Homo sapiens: one gene and its partners. The protein of the gene in region 2 interacts with the protein of the main gene of each other region in a biochemical or structural test. Each region holds a gene or a part of one and is shown on either strand. Other genes may lie near its edges.

Region 1 (3,045 bases), on a different chromosome or scaffold from region 2:
AAGTGACTGGACTGGACTCTTTTGTAGGCCTGGTAAGTCACTTGGGTTAAGACAGCTAACCTTGAGCTTTTCCTCCCCCGCAGAGAGGCACTGCCCCTGGTAAAGAGACACCAGAGGCCCCATTTTTCTACAATGGAATGTCAGCATAGGCAGGGACCTCCTCCAGTTGAAGAAACAAGTCCAGAGAGGGCAGGTGACCCACCCAGGGCCTCACTGCGAACTGGGGTGCGGAGTCGGGGGCCCAGTTAGAAAGCATTTGTCCCTCCATTAAAATAAATACTAAAAATCCTACCAAGTTACCATAGTCCATAGTGGATAGGCCTCGTTCCCAGGGGCTTTGCCCAAAAGGCTGCACATTTTCTTGCTACAGTCTAAATTGCTTAAAAAATTGAAGAGCCGGAATGTTCCATTCAGAATGCAGTCCCATTAGGTGACAGGTTCCACTGCATGGCCTAAAATTAATCAATGTTTATCGGCTGCATAAAGGATGTTGTAGTGGGATGTTTTATAGAGCAGGTAAACGGAAGGGGTGGCGGCCTCAGGGAACACGTGGTGGTTCAGGGCGGTATCCATCTCGTCCACGTACTCCACTTGCAGGGCAATGCTCAGGGCCTGCGACAACGCCGTGATCTGGATGTGGTCACACTCCGTGGCCATGGGCTCTACTTCCTGCAGGGGCCAAAATGAAAACAAGCCAGCTTAGGAGGGAGGCCTGGCAGAGGACAAGTGAGTTCAGCTCTGGCTCTCAGGGTCATGGTCACAGCCTCTGTGCTGGGACGTCATCTTCACAACATCCCATGAGTTGGGTATGGACGTTCTCATGCCACACGGGAAACAGCCTCATTGAGAGGCAGCATAGCTAGAAATCGCTACAATTGCAAGAATCGAACCTGAATCTTTTCCATTCTAGACCTTGTAGTTACACCTGACAGCAGGCTACTAATTTAGAGGGATCTGGAAACGGGGGGCAGACATTTTTCAGGTTGGGCATCAAAGAATCTTAGAGATAAAAGGCACCCTGTCATCCAGGGGTGCCTTTCAAGCTTAAGTGTTTACAGAGGCTAGGCTGGTGAGTGAGGGTGCGAGTCCGGGTGCTGCAGAGACGATGGAAGAAGCAGAGGCGGTGGCAAGCAGGCGTATGTCCTACATAGAGAGGGCAGCTGCTGCTTAGTGCCTGCTGAGACTGCCCTGCAAGAGCAAGGACCTGGGGGCTGTACTTCTTACTTTCCAGCAGAAATCCAAATATTCATATGAAAAGTGCCTAATTTTTAAATATCGGCAACTCTTTCTGGTAAATACCATGCATCATAAACACGTCAAGCAAATGTGACTCTTGGACTATGACTGTGGTTTTGTAAACAGGCCAGTCCAAATCCCTTATTTTTCAGATGGGAAATCTCCAGAGAGGGGAAGTGACTTGCCTCAGGCCACACAGCTCAGGCAGCTCAGGTGGGACCTGTCTGCAGCTTGCTGACCTAGCTCTGTTTGAATTGCAAGGGCAGTCGTGACACCCGAGTCCCTTGGCTACGGATGGGTGCTGAAGTCTGCAGGACAGGGCCACAGGAGCAGAGCCCAGGGCTGGGGCTGAGACCCCAAGCACCTACGTGAGTGCAGAAGTCTTTGATGTCCATCTCCTCATCAATGAAGTGCCGGAAGAAGTCTGCTCGGTTCCTGATGAAGGCCGACGTGAGCAGGCGCAGGAACTGCACGATGTGGTCCGAGGCACTCTGGTCGTTGAACACCTTCAGCAGGCTGGACACTGAGCCATCCTTCTCTACCAGTTCCACCACACTGTAAAACTGCGCCCGCCCGGCCCTCAGCTAGGGAGGCCAAGCAAGCCCCAGCCCTCCCTCTGCATTCTCCCTCCGCTCCCTCCCTTCGCGTGAAGCCCTCACGTGCATTTTCATTTGTAGATTCTCAGGTTGAGTTAGAAAATCAGTCTGAGATTCTGCCTAAGCTAAGTAACCCAGGGTTAGCAAGACTTTGCAGTTTGTACACTAGTCCAGAGGCATGTTTGGGAGCGGCAGTTGGGTCTCCCCACCATGACTACCTGGGTTTGGATTCTCACGTGCACACTCAGAGTGGCAAGCGTCTGAGAGTCCTCGATCCCGCCCCTTCACTAATTGGATAGGGAGGCATGAGGTGGAGATGGAATAGGGTGAGGGAATAGGGTGAGGGCTCCCTGTGCCCACACACCCCCACAAGCAGGAAGGAACCCTCTGTCCTTCCCCAGCCAGGAGGAGCAGAGCTGTGGGCTGTGTAGGGGCTCCAGCCAGTGCCCACTCCTGTCTGCTCTGCCAGTGTGGAAGGAGGGACCAGGTGAACTCACAGCATTGAAGAAGTTTCTGAACTTGTGCTCCTCAAAGCCAGCAGCCAGAAGGTCATTTGGGGTCTGCAGTACGCGTTCTTTGAACCTACAGAGGGGGAAGACTGAGTGTTTACAGGGAAACACAGCGAGAGTGCTGTGATTGGCAACTGTGCGTCCCCCTCTCAACCCACTGCGCCCACCAACCTCATCTCTAGTCCAGCCGCAGAACCTCCCGCCCCTGCCCCCAACACACAGCCACATGCACCGTGCACATCTCCACCCTGGCCCTGCCGGGCCCTGGTGGCTGAGCTGCATTGTGTGTGTGTGCATGGTGGAAAGACGATACGACAAGGGCGTGTGTGATTTTGCATCTTTTCCAACTCCCTACTCAGTGACCTCATGAGGGCAGCTTGACTCAGTCATGATAATATTGAATACTGACACCACAGCAATCGGCTGACAACACACATCAGGCCTCCCGCACGCCCACAGCCGGCTGTTAAGCATCTGCCAGCACCAAGTTACCCTTGGGGACCCACTCCACAGGCCCTTGCTCTGCGCATGCTGGGTTGTTACTCTCTGCACCTACTGCAGGCCCCCTCATGGCGCAGCCCCTTTCTGGGACCTGTCCTGGTGCCCTCAGGGGGTATGGCAAGAAACCCAGGCCTGGGCCTGGCCCTGGCTCCAGGACACTCCCAAGTTTAGTGGCAGCAACGAGGTATGGAGGAAGGGCTGCC
Region 2 (3,527 bases):
GGTCAACTGATTTTCAACCAGAGTGCCAACACCATTTGATGGGGGAAAAATCATGTCTTCAACAAATGGTATTGGTACAACTGGATATCCACAGCAGAAGAATCACACTGGACCCCTACCTCACACAATACACAAAAATTCCTCAAAATGGATCAACAACCTAAATAAATAACTAAAACTATAAAATTCTTAGAACACAGAGATAAGTCTTCATGACCTTGGATTTGTCAATGGATTCTCAGCTATGACACCAAAAGCACAAGCAACAAAAGAAAAAAATAATAACACTTTTGAGCCAGGCATGGTGGTGTGTACCTGTAGTCCCAGCTACTTGGGACACTGAAGTGGGCTGATGTACTTTTCTGCATCAAAGGGCATTATCAAGAAAGTGAAAAGACAACCGGTATACAAATTCAAGAAATAAACACATACATCAAGAAATCCAACAAGAAATATACAGTGCTGGCCGGGCACGGTGGCTCATGCCTGTAATCCGAGCACTCCGGGAGGCCAATGTGGATCACCTAAGGTCAGGAGTTCAAGACCAGCCTGGCCAACATGGTGAAACCATCTCCACTAAAAATACAAATATTAGCCAGGTGTGTTGGCACGCGCCTGTAATCCCAGCTTCCTGGGAGGCTGAAGCAAGAGAATCACTTGAACCCAGGAGGCAGAGGTTGCAGTGAGCCGAGATCAGACCACTGCACTCCAGCCTAGGTGACAGAGCCAGACTCTGTCTTGGGGAAAAAAAAAGAAAAAAGAAATACACAGTGTACAAATTATCAAGAAAGTGAAAAGACAATGGGAGAAAATACTTTTAAATCATTTATCTGGTAAGAGTCTAGCATCTGGATGATATAAAAAACTCTCTTTGAACTCCCTTTAAGTCAACAACCAAAAAACGAGACAACCCAATTCAAAAATGGACAAAGAACTTAAAAAGATATTTCTCCAAAGAAGATATATAAATAGTCAATAAGTTTATGAAGACACTTAACATTAGCCATAACATTAACATGGCCAAATCAAAATCATGATGAGATGCCACTTCACACCCATTAGGATGACTGTTATCTAACAAAAACAAAAAATAACAAGTGTTTGATGAGAAAAGAGAAAAACTAGAACCCTTGTGTATTGCTGGTGGGAATATAAAACTTCCCCAGCAACCTTGGAAAACAGTCTGGCAGTTCCTCAAGAAGTTAAACATAGAATTACCATATGAGTCAACAATTCCTTCTAGGTATATACCCAAAAGAAGGGAAAACAGGTACTCAAATACAAGTATATGAAAATTCATAACAGAACTATTCATAATAACCAAAAGGTGTAAATAACTCAAATGTCCGTCAATGGAAGAATGGACAGGCAAAACATATCTATACATACAGTGGAATATTACTCAGTGATTAAAATGAAAAACTCATACATGCTACAACTTGAACAAATCTCAAAAACATTACAATAAACGACAGATGCCACACATAATAGGTCACATATTGCATGATCCATTTACATGAAATCTCTCTAATACGTAAATCTAGAGACAGAAAGTAGATTGGTATTGCCAGGGGTGGAGGGCATGGGGGAATAGGGAGTGACTGCTTAATGGTTACAAAGTTTTCTTTCAGGGTAATGAAAATGTTTTAGAACTAGACGGAATTGGTGATTGCACAATATTGTGAATATATTAAATGTCACTGAACTTGTACACTTGAACTTTTTTTTTTTGGAGACAGAGTTTTACTCTTGTCACTCAGGCTAGAGTGCAGTGGCATGATCTCCGCTCACTGCAACCGCTGCCTCCCGGGTTCAAGTGATTCTCCTGCCTCAGCCTCCCAAGTAGCTGGAATTACAGGTGCTCACCACCACATCTGGCTAATTTTTATATTTTTTAGTAGAGACGGGGCTTCACCATGTTGGCCAGGCTGGTCTTGAATTCCTGACCTCAGTGAGCCACCTCACCCAGCCCCACTTTAAAATAATTTTATGTTATATAAATTTTGCCTCAATTGAAAAAAAAAAAATCACCTGGGTGCAGTGGCACACACCTGTAGTTCCAGCTCTGCAGCAGGCTGAGGCAGAATGATCACTTGTGCCCAGGATTTTCAAACAGTAGTACACCACGATCATGCCTGTGAATAGCCACTGCACTCCAGCCTGAGCAACATAGCTAGACCCCAACTCTATGAAAAAACAAATGAATAAGGAAACCTGTATACACATCCCCACACAAAAGGAAAGAAGGAAGGGGGGAGGGAGGGAGGGAGGAAGGGAGGGAGGAAGAAAGGGAGGAAGGGAGGGAGGGAGGGGACACAAGAAAGTACTAACTTGGGCAAGAAGATTGAAAAAGAAAATGTTGTTTAGAAAATCTTCTTAGGGTTAAAGTGCCTACCAGCCATCATGTAGCATGCAGCTGGTACTTACTGAGGCAGATCTTTAGTTTGGTTTTGTGTGTCTGATATTTTGACCCCTGTTTTACGTAGAAAGCCTAGACGCTGGAAATAGTGCCATGCAGCCCAGACTCCAGCACACATCAGCCTCCTGGCAAATCTCAATCTTCCTCAGCATCAGTTTCCAGAATGGAAAATGAAGTACACCAAAAGCTTTGACAGCCCTGTATGACTATCAAAGGAAGTACTGCAAATAAATTGTTAGCAAAATGAAGAAATGCAATAGAAATGAAAAATACTGGGACTTGCCTGTTCAACTAAACTCCTCTAGAGTTTACAGTAAAAATACTGATATCCTGTGTTATAGTTTTGGTTTTATCACTTACTTGCTGTGTCACTTTGCAAATTCTACTTCCTGCTCATACTAAATTTTATTTCATAGAGTGCCTATGAGGGTTCAATGAAAAGTTATTAAAATTATTAAAGTGCTACATAGTCAAGTGGTAAGTCAGAAACTTTGGTTTTAGAAAGGCTTGTACTAAAGTCGGAGAAATGTTATGCTTCAAGTCAGAATGGCTTGAAGTCACAGCTCTGCTACTTATAATTCAATCATGGTCATAAGCTGCATTTCTCATCTGTAAGATAGAAGCAAACAGACTTCAGTTTAAAATCTCATACGAATAAAGAAAAAAAGAGATAGGTACCATGGTTCACGCCTGTAATCCCAAAACTTTGGGAGGCTCAGGCGGGAGGATCACTGGAGCGCGGGAGTTCAAAACCAGCCTGGGCAACATAAAGAGACCCCCCATCTCTACAAAAACTAAAAATATTAGCTAGGCATGGTGGCACATGTCTGTAGTTCCAGCTACTCTGTAGGCTGAGGTAGGAGAATTGCTTGGGCCCAGGAGGTTGAGGCTGCAGTGAGCCATGATAGAGCCACTGCACTACTCCAGCCTAGGTGACAGAGTAAGACCATGTCTCAAAAAAAAAAAAAAAAGACAAAAGAAAGAAAAGGAATAAATAAAATAAATCTCATATGAGGCCCTTATAAGGCATACTAACATCTGAGGTCAGGCACGGTGGCTCATGCCTGTAATCCCAGCACTTTTGGAGGCTGAGGCAGGATGACTTGGT
Region 3 (3,527 bases), on a different chromosome or scaffold from region 2:
CGAACTCCTGACCTCAAATGATCCGCCCGCCACGGCCTCCCAAAGTGCTGGGATTACAGGTGTGACCCACTGCGTCCAGCCTATGTTACAGCTAGTTCATTTTATAAATTATTCTATTCCTTCAAAATAAGGACAGCTATTAATGAAAGATTTCTTGAAAGTGCAAGACCTGCAGGTTTCAGAACTTAAAGTCATTCATGATCCTAACTGGCCCCCTCCTATTTCTACCCTCGTCTTGTCATTTGAAAGACAAGCCAGTGCTTCACTTTCATTGGATTTTTTCCCCCTGGTATTTTCATTTTTAATAATGGGAAGGCATAAACTAACACAGTAACAGTTTTAAAGTACTCATCATTTAAACCTTTATAAGGCTAGTAATGTAAAAGGTAAAGAAAAATGTATATGGGTTGTAATAAGGGTAGTTTTTTCTATTCACTGTTACTTGACTTTTATAGGGCAAAAATCATAGTAGAGACTATGTCATTGATTTTCAGCATGAAAGATATCAAAATTAAAATGGGAAAATGATACATTTAACATTGGTAAACAGGAATTTATCAAAAGACAAAGAAAAATTGCAGAAAAGTATATCAGTTAAACCATAATACTCAAATTGGAGTGGAAAAGATTATAATCCGACAGATATTTATCAAAAACTAACTTATAGTATTTAAAATGTGAAATTTGACTTCAGGGCAGGGCAACATATTTTAAACACAGGAAATCAGAACACAACACTTGAGCGAAACACTTAAGTTACCCTTAAGTAATCTTACAGGTGACTAATTTCACAGGCTCAGATTTAAAACTACGGTGCTTTAAATCTGAGTCTGTGAAATTAGTCACCCTTAAGATTACTGGCTAAAGATTTAATCTTCTCTCAAAAAGAAAATAAACAAGCTACCTGATTACAACAGTCTTAGAAAATAAAAATGAAATTTTCATTTATAGTATGAAACCTGTTACATCAATTCATTAAATATGATGTTCGACTCAACTTTTCCGTTGTTTAAATAGTGCTAAAATAATAGTATAGCCCAACCAGGGAAATCGTAAATATTTAAGATTACAATGTCAGTGGAAAACATTTTTCGCATGAATTAAAAGAAAAGCATTCATTTGAAAATATTCCCAAGTAAGAAGCCAAAATAATTCCATTAGAATTTTAAAAGGCCAGAAAGAGCAACCCAAAAATCCAGTGTGAAAGAAAACAATACCTATATAAACGTTAAGCAAAGCCAGGAATGTAGATTACTTTGAAACATCTACTTATTTCCATTTTAATGAAGAATTAAAGGATACAATGTGTTAAAGACATATTTAAAATACTAGCAAGGGATTAGACAGACGAATCAAATTTTGTTGATATCCCAAATAATTACAAGAGACTTCGAAAATGTAGTGTAATTCAGGTTTTCTTTCCAGTTTAAAAATTTCTATCCATTGCCTCTATCTTTGGTGTCACTGCCACCAATAAACACAGTATACAGCTTAGAAACCTAATTACTATCTTCAACTAGGAAAAGGTAAACCAACATCATTTCTTTAAAATGAGAAATAAAGAATGTGATCGTACTTAATTTTGTCTCATGGTCCCACAATACTCTGAAATGTCATGCCAAAATGTAAAAGTTCAAAAGGGAACATTATCATTTGCTATAATTGCACCAAAAATTTAGCTACTGTACGCTGGTGTGATGACAGCCAGTAGTATGCAGAGGCTACAGAAAGACATGTAGATATATATATATACACACACATATATATATATATCTCTTTAGCTCACAATTAGTAAAAGGTTCAGTTTAATGTGAAACTGAAACACACGACAACATAATGCGCCTTCATGTAAATACGCTAACAACTTTGTTTTCTTGAAGTTTAAAAGGATAGTATAATTACCTTAAATTTACACAAAACATTAAGAAACATGGTAGTTGTTTATGATTAAAATAAAATAGCAACGTAAATTAATTTAACACAGTGTTAAATATATTCACACGATCACCACTGTGATTCAAAATGGCCACTAATGCAGTTACATATCAATATATGTACATAACATTTGTCACAACAGTTTTTGTAAGTTTGACTTTCTGCAGACCAGGTTTACGAGACAAATAGCCTTGTATCAATTCTTTCATATTATGAAAGGAATTAAATGTTGTAAGTAGTTTCATTCCTCTGCAGGGGCGGGGGGGGAAGAACCTCTAAAAAGTCAGTGTAAATTGAGGAGAGTTCTACCTTCTTGAATATTTGAACCTGTTGACCTGGAGAGATTCCTATAAGCTGAGGATAAACACATCTTAAGATAGTAATGAATCTCATAACATTGTCAGTGGCATTTAGCAGGTATCTGCCACCAAGAGGAACACCGGGTCCTATAGCAGAGCCTTCTGAGAATATGGTTGCTGTGGCTGAGGTGGCTGTTGGCTGCCTCCGGGCTGAGGCAGAGTTGATGATGTTAAGTTATAGTTTGGCACCTGGGGCATATTAGGTCCTGCATTCTGGTACAGAGTGACATCGGCAGTTGCAGCAGCAGCAGTAGCGGCAGGAGGAGGACTATATACTGGCGCCTGGCTGGGATATGTGTTTCCTTGAACGGAACTGACCATTGTACTGTGGAGGAAGAAAAACACTCAATTACATCAATACTGATTTATAGAGCAACTACAGATAAATGGAAAAGCTATTTACTAAGCATTCATTCATATAGTCAATTCATTTAATAACCTTTTACTAAACAGCTATAATGTGCCAAACATTGTTATTTTAGGCTTTGTGATATCAGGCATTGCATTAAAAATATGTGTGTTATTTAACCATTGTGTAAAAAAAGTTGGGGGGGGTGGTTTGCGGAAATAAGTCTATACCACCATGGAGCGTCTGTTCTAGTGGTAGAAAAGGGTAACAAACACATGTATCGTGTGTCAAGTGGTTCTAACTGGTAAGAACAAAAACAAAGCCCAATACGGAGGACAAAGAGCAGCTGGGGCAAGGGATTCTAGTTTATGGTAGGGTGCCTCTCCAATAAGGCAATACTTAAGCAAAGATGTGGAAAAAGTAAGCGAGTGAGCCAGATAGATTCCCTAGGAAAGTACATTTCAGGTAAACAGAAAGAAGCCTTTGAGGAGAGAAAACACCAAGCATGTTCAAGGAACAGCAGGCCACGAGTGCTGCGGCAGAGGGGGCCGCAGGGGGTGCCGAGGGGAGAGCAGCTAAGATCACCGGCAGGACTGCGGTGGTGGGGAGGGGGCTGGAGAACACACAGCACCTGATGGCCACAATAAGGACTGTAGCTTACACTCTGAGTGAGACAGAAAGACACTGGCTCGTTCTGAGCAGAAGCGTGATAAGATTCCACAGGGTTTAACGGGCTCCCTCTGGACCAGGATAGCTGACTGCAGGTTATTACGATCCACCAGGAGAGAGCCGACCAGCAGAAGAGCCACGGCAGTAATGGTGGAGATGGGAGAAAGGGTCAGAGTCTAGATAGATTTTGAAGATAATGCCTTCAAAATATGATA
Region 4 (2,977 bases), on a different chromosome or scaffold from region 2:
GATGTTTTAGAAACTTCCTATGGAAAAAGAGATAGAGAAAATGAAATGCTGGCAAGTTGCAAATTCCAGTCTCAGGACCACAAAGTCACCTGAAACCTCACTCTACCCTCGGCAGTCCAAAACACATCCCTGTAGTCATCTGGTTTTGGAGGGTTCCACATTTGGTTACCCTCCAATCTGTCCAGTTAAAATTCCAACCTGAATTTTGCTCATCCTTGTAGTTACTGCCAAGAGTAGCTGGATCTGTGAATAACAGTACCCAAAGTATATAAAGGACTTTTTCTTGGTTTGTTTGGAGACGGAGTTTCGCTCTTGTCGCCTGGGCTGGAGTGCAATGGCATGATCTCGGCTCACTGCAACCTCTGCCTCCCAGGTTCAAGTGATTCTCCTGCCTCAGCCTCCTGACCAGCTGGGATTACAGGCGTCCGCCACCACGCCTGGCTAATTTTTGTATTTTTAGTAGAGACAGAGTTTCACCGTGTTGGTCAGGCTGGTCTCGAACTCCTGACCTCAGGTGATCCACCCGCCTTGGCCTCCCAAAGTGCTGAGATTACAGGCGTGAGCAATCGCCTCTAAAGAACTTTTACAAATGTTCTTTGGTCCTGGGGAAATTCAGTGCTCCCTGGCCTGCATGTTTGTCTTCCTTTCTATGAACTGGCAACTACACTGTCTCAGTTGTCTTAAATAGAGAGAACGTTACAATGCCAGCCCCACCAGACTAGAAGGCTGGTATCCCAGGCTGGGCATCTTCCCTACCAAAAGGACTTAAAAGTACTGATGCGCCATTGAAGATTAAGGTCAGGTCCGAGACACTATGATTCTAAGGCAGGGAGAGAATCCAAGGGCACAGGAATTTCATTTCCTTTGTCAAATAACCAGAGATGAGCTCAGTGTCCCCAACCTAAGAAATGAAGCAGCCTAGCAACTTAGTCACAAAAGGTGCCGATTACCTGAGCTCGCTCTCGCCTCCAATCCACTCGGGCATCTTGAGTTTGGAGTCGAGGTTGTAGTAGGCCCCTCCCACCTCTCGAACACAGATCCAGTGCTGCCTTTTGAGGGGCAGTTTCAGTGGACCCCAGCATAGGCTGGAGGGCAGATTCATGATGAAGCCCATGACGTTAGTGAGGGCAATGACACCGACATCCCTGCAGGGGAGAAATGGTGGCAGGCTCTGATGCAGCCCATTTTCCAAGGTTCCCTGGCTGTAATACCACAACTGGCTACCTCCCCACTCATGCCATGAGCCCAAGTACTAAAAGCTTATACCACAACCGTGCTGTTCTCCATCAAGTCAAGCCTGATTCAGATTACCTGCGCTTGTCCCACCAAACAGCTTCATAGCCTTTGGTCTGAAGTGCTGCCATAATGACATTCACATCGTAGTTGCCATTTCCCAGCATGCTCTTCTTGTGAGGTGTCACCATGGTGTTTGGAGACAACCTACCAATGTGAAAAGAGGAGGGCTGAGACTTGCTGGATGCCTGAACCCCCTGACCCCGCACTACCAGGGATGGAGAGCACTTTACATCACTGCCCCTGGAAGTTAGTTTCCCCACATTCAAGTGCAATTTCCCCAGCTTCTACCTAAGTATTTTGTAAGTGTTCCATGAAGGTGACTCACTTATGAAATCCCAGCCTCCTGCAGCCTTTCTGCTCTTCCTCCTGATACTGATTTTCCTGCCTCATGCAAGCCTTTTTTTTTTTTAACATTGGAAAATAGGATTCAATCTTTTCATTTGCATGGATAGTAACTGGTGTCACTCCTGCTTTCTAGTTAAGGCCTGCAAACTTGGTAATCATTAATCATTAAATACTCAAAGGCATACAGGAGCCTAGACAGGTGACATAAATGTATAAACTGGGGTTGGATATAAGGCAATAAAAAGTAGTGAGGCCTACTGGAATGCACGACCCACCTAAAGGCATTCTGTGTGTGTGTGTGTGTGTGTGTGTGTGTGTGTGTAGTACTTGAATAAATTTTTCTTAAAATACCCAATAAATCAACTGAAAAAAAATTTGTGCCAGGCAAACAAAACTCAGCTGCAGCACTGGTTTGCCCACCCAGCTTGAAGCCATTTACTTCCAGGTTTCTTTAGCCAGTCTGTATTTTAAGACAAGGTCCATGCTGAAGGCATTTCTAATTCTATTATTTTACCTTCATAAACTTGTCAGGCCAGGAGCTGGGGAAAGGCCATTTTGAAGGAAGGGTTCAAGGGGCATACCTTTGGGCTTCGTGTGAAGGGGAGAAAGGGAAGTGTGGCGAGTTCCTCAGGACATAAAGTGCATGATCAAGAGGCTACTACATGCCATCTCCAGAAAAGAATCAAGACGTTAGGCCAAGGATGTCAACTCTAAAAAACTTAAGAAATCTTGTATTTTTAAAATTTTTCTGTGCACAGCAGAAATACTGGTATTTTTTTTCTTTCTTTTTTTTTTGAGTCGGAGTCTTGCTCTGTCGCCCAGGCTGGAGTGTGATGGCGCGATCTCAGCCCACTGCAACCTCCGTCTCCTGCGTTCAAGTGATTCTCTTGCCTTAGCCTCCCAAGTAGCTGGGATTACAGGCACCCGCCACCACGCCCACCTAATTTTTGTATTTTTAGTTGAGATGGGGTTTCACTACGTTGGCCAGGCTGGTTGGTCTCGAACTCCTAACCTTGTGATCCACCCGCCTCAGCCTCCCAAAGTGCTGGGATTACAGGTGTGAGCCACTGAACTCAGCAATACTGGTATTTTTCAAATATAAAACATACTCCTGGCCAGGCGCGGTGGCTCATGCTTGTAATTCCGGCACTCTGGGAGGCTGAGGTGGGCAGATCACTTGAGGTCAGGAGTTCAAGACCAGCCTGGGTAACATGGTGAAACCCCGTCTCTACTAAAAATACAAAAATTAGCCAGGCGTGGTGGTGCACGCCTGTAGTCTCAACTACTCAGGAGACTGAGGCAGCTAACTGCTTGAACGTAGGAGGCAGAGGCTGCA
Region 5 (3,527 bases), on a different chromosome or scaffold from region 2:
AATCGCTTCAACCCAGGAGGCAGAGGTTGCAGTGAGCTGAGATCGTGCCACTGCACTCCAATCTGGGCGACAGAGTGTGACTCCATCTCAAAAAAAAAAAAAAAAAAAAACTTTACTACCAATAACATAGCCAATTAACAATAACATAGCCAATTAATACATGTTTTGTAAATGTATTATATACTGCATAATATATACCTTACCAATAACATAGCCAATTAACACGTTTTGTAAATGTATTATATACATTTACAAATAACCTTACCAATAACATAGCCAATTAACACGTTACCTTACCAATAACATAGCCTTACCAATAACATAGCCAGTTAACACATGTTTTTTAATGTATTATAAACTGCATTCTTACGAAAAAGTAAGCTAGGGGAAAATATTAAGAAAATCATAAAAGAAAATATATTTACTATTCATTAAGTGGAAATGGATCGTCATAAAGGTCTTCATCCTCATCATCATGTTGAGTAGGCTGAAGAGGAGGAGGAAAAGGAGCAATTGGTCTTGCTGTCTCAGGGGTGGCAGAGGCAAAAGAAAATCCATGTGTAAGTAGATCTGCACAGATCAAACCCACCTTGTCCAAGGGTCAACTGTGTATTTTTTTACCACAACCCTATAAAAGTAACTACTATTTTCCAGCCGCATTTTACAGTCAGGTATTTATTGACAATAATATTGTCTTCTAGCTCTTGTTCAGCTTCTGGAATTTCTGAGCAGCCCTCGTCAGTACAAGATGGACCCCGTAGTCTTGAGTTACATGGACAGTCTACTGCGGCAATCAGATGTCTCACTATTGGATCCGCCAAGCTGGCTCAATGACCATATTATTGGGTTTGCGTTTGAGTACTTTGCCAACAGTCAGTTTCATGACTGCTCTGATCACGTCAGTTTCATCAGCCCTGAAGTCACCCAGTTCATCAAGTGCACTAGCAACCCAGCAGAGATTGCCATGTTCCTTGAACCACTGGACCTCCCCAACAAGAGAGTTGTATTTTTAGCCATCAATGATAACTCCAACCAGGCAGCTGGAGGAACCCACTGGAGTTTATTGGTCTACCTCCAAGATAAAAATAGCTTTTTTCATTATGATTCCCATAGCAGGAGCAACTCAGTTCACGCAAAGCAGGTAGCAGAGAAACTGGAGGCTTTCTTAGGCAGAAAAGGAGACAAACTGGCCTTTGTGGAAGAGAAAGCCCCTGCCCAACAAAACAGCTATGACTGTGGGATGTACGTGATATGTAACACTGAGGCCTTGTGTCAGAACTTCTTTAGGCAACAGACAGAATCACTGCTGCAGCTACTCACCCCTGCATACATCACAAAGAAGAGGGGAGAATGGAAAGATCTCATTACCACACTTGCTAAAAAGTAGCTATTGAAGTATATTTGCGACTTTTGAAGGCTCCTCTTTCTGCCCTTCCCCATTTGTTGGATGGCTGCAATCTCAGTGCCTGAGGGAAGATGCCTAGTAGAGGAAAGCTTAATACTCTTTTTCCTGAAAGAATATCATCCTCTGCATTATCCCCATGGAACGTTTCACTTTAACCCTGACTGGGGAGCAATATGTTCTGTGAAAATATCTTGAAATTGTACACCAAAACCTTACAACCAACTTATTTGAACATTTATTACACACAGGGTTTACGTAAGACTTTTCTTATTGGTATATAATTAATTTCCTTTGGTCTCCCTTATCCACATTGGCTTATTCTGGAGGAAAAGCAGTGATCTGTAAAACAAATCAAGAATATATTAAATCTAGAGGAATGCAGAGAAGAAAACTATAAAACAGAACCAAAAACTTGTTGCACAGCCTACATAATTAAGAGATCAACTGGCTGGAAGCAGATCAAGGCCTAACTTCATTCAAGACCTAAATATTATGAGACTCAGTTATTCGGTTTTATGTGACATCTCTTCCATTCACCATGCACAGGCTTTTCCAGCTATCTATATAATGTTTGCAAATATTTGATAAAGATGATGTTACCCTATCTTCCTCCATCTGATTCCTGGAATGCTTGAAGAAAGGGGAAATCTTGAGTAACCTCATTAAAATTAATGTCTGGTGGACCTCTCAGTTTGCTCACTGATTGGGTAGACTTGCTACTCTGGATTAATAACTGCTTTTCTCTGCCTTGTCTATTAGCCATGCACACACTTCCTCCTTATATCCAAAGTTCTTTGGTTCTAAAATTCATAGTTGATACCTTCCCAAGGTTACCTGTTGTTTCAGATAAACATTTGTTCTTCCTGATAGTTATAGGTTTTCCTCTCTGTCCTTAATTCTGGCAGAATTGTTTTTAGTTATGTCATGGTAATTTCAGGATGATTTTTGTATCTGAAACTTAACAGACTTAGAGTTGGTTTGTTTTTTAAATATAAAGGAAGAAAAGTGACCTTTCTCAGCCCTTTTACTTAATTAAAAATGCAGGGAATGTAATTTGTAAAATGTGGAACCAAGAGTAGAACGAAATACTATCCCTCCAGAAGCACTGATGTGTTTCAGTTGTTTCAAATAGTAAACAACCAGATGACATGTTAGGTACACAAATTAATTCTATTCCTAATGAGAATTAGATTGCAAGGCCTATGAGACTTGAAAACCAAAGATGAGCTTCAGCCATGAAACTTATTTCAGCTACCTCCCCAGCCTAACCCTGCCCCCAGCCCTCATGGCCCAAAATAACCTCACCACTCAGTGACCACAGAGAAAGTAACTTGGTTCCTTTTAGCCGAGAAGGGAAAACACAGTAAGGGTAAATAAGTACAGGTTACATAGCAGGCCTGAGTGAGCAGGAGCTGAAACTAAAAGTCAAAGAGAAAGCTATCAAAAAAAGTTTCCATTTCAAGTCGGTACATTTTGGATAAAAACCAGTCCTAATGGAAGATGGGGCTAGGAAAAAGATTAGGAACTGGCAGTCATCCATAGAGGTGAAATACAGAGGGAGGGACAGCAAGAGAAGTGACAAAGGTCACTGATGATAGGCCACAAGTGTAGATAAAGATAAGAAAACAATGTTATTTCAGTGACTGTTGACTTAGGCAGCTAATCTAGACTATTAAAGTCAAATCCTCTCTGGGAAAAGTTATCTTTCTGACAATGCAAAGTATGTTTATTTAAATATCAGAGTATCTTCAATCTGAGAATTAAAGCATATGAAAGCAATCTTTCCTAACTCCCTACGATTCATCTTATAAGTAAATTTATAAGTAAATTTTTAAACTACACTAGTCTTTTAAATATATATAGAAAAATATATATACACACGTATAGACATGTATATGTAATCTATCTACATATATATAAAAAATGCATTTTCCAAATGCATTAGCCTGATTGGACTGTGCCACAGATTAGTGTCCTCCTATGAAATTTTGAGTATGTCATTTGTAAATGTTAGCATTATAAATTGCAGGAGAATTTAAGAATTGACTTGTATTTCACTGGATACTATAGTACCCGGTAAGTTACACACCTGCTTGACCACATACCATTCATGTTACATGAC

Evidence for each region.
Region 1: of the proteins of USP28 (region 2) and OTUB2, one has a biochemical effect on the other in vitro, tested with the Homo sapiens proteins (one large-scale study listed by BioGRID).
Region 3: of the proteins of USP28 (region 2) and STAM, one has a biochemical effect on the other in vitro, tested with the Homo sapiens proteins (one large-scale study listed by BioGRID).
Region 4: of the proteins of USP28 (region 2) and JOSD1, one has a biochemical effect on the other in vitro, tested with the Homo sapiens proteins (one large-scale study listed by BioGRID).
Region 5: of the proteins of USP28 (region 2) and SENP8, one has a biochemical effect on the other in vitro, tested with the Homo sapiens proteins (one large-scale study listed by BioGRID).

What each region holds. Positions count from the first base shown.
Region 1 is NC_000014.9:94,043,340-94,046,384, reverse strand, and holds part of OTUB2 (ubiquitin thioesterase OTUB2), read right to left. Parts: intron 2,415-3,045; coding exon 2,330-2,414; intron 1,800-2,329; coding exon 1,605-1,799; intron 670-1,604; coding exon 463-669; 3' UTR 1-462. UniProt on the Homo sapiens protein: Hydrolase that can remove conjugated ubiquitin from proteins in vitro and may therefore play an important regulatory role at the level of protein turnover by preventing degradation.
Region 2 is NC_000011.10:113,865,552-113,869,078, forward strand, and holds part of USP28 (ubiquitin carboxyl-terminal hydrolase 28), read right to left. Parts: intron 1-3,527. UniProt on the Homo sapiens protein: Deubiquitinase involved in DNA damage response checkpoint and MYC proto-oncogene stability. Involved in DNA damage induced apoptosis by specifically deubiquitinating proteins of the DNA damage pathway such as CLSPN.
Region 3 is NC_000010.11:17,713,635-17,717,161, reverse strand, and holds the end of STAM (signal transducing adapter molecule 1), read right to left. Parts: exon of another isoform or gene 2,620-3,527; coding exon 2,382-2,619; 3' UTR 338-2,381; downstream 1-337. UniProt on the Homo sapiens protein: Involved in intracellular signal transduction mediated by cytokines and growth factors. Upon IL-2 and GM-CSL stimulation, it plays a role in signaling leading to DNA synthesis and MYC induction. May also play a role in T-cell development.
Region 4 is NC_000022.11:38,687,985-38,690,961, forward strand, and holds part of JOSD1 (josephin-1), read right to left. Parts: intron 1,441-2,977; coding exon 1,312-1,440; intron 1,146-1,311; coding exon 951-1,145; intron 18-950; coding exon 1-17.
Region 5 is NC_000015.10:72,138,876-72,142,402, forward strand, and holds part of SENP8 (sentrin-specific protease 8), read left to right. Parts: intron 1-436; exon of another isoform or gene 437-560; intron 561-701; 5' UTR 702-748; coding exon 749-1,387; 3' UTR 1,388-3,527. UniProt on the Homo sapiens protein: Protease that catalyzes two essential functions in the NEDD8 pathway: processing of full-length NEDD8 to its mature form and deconjugation of NEDD8 from targeted proteins such as cullins or p53.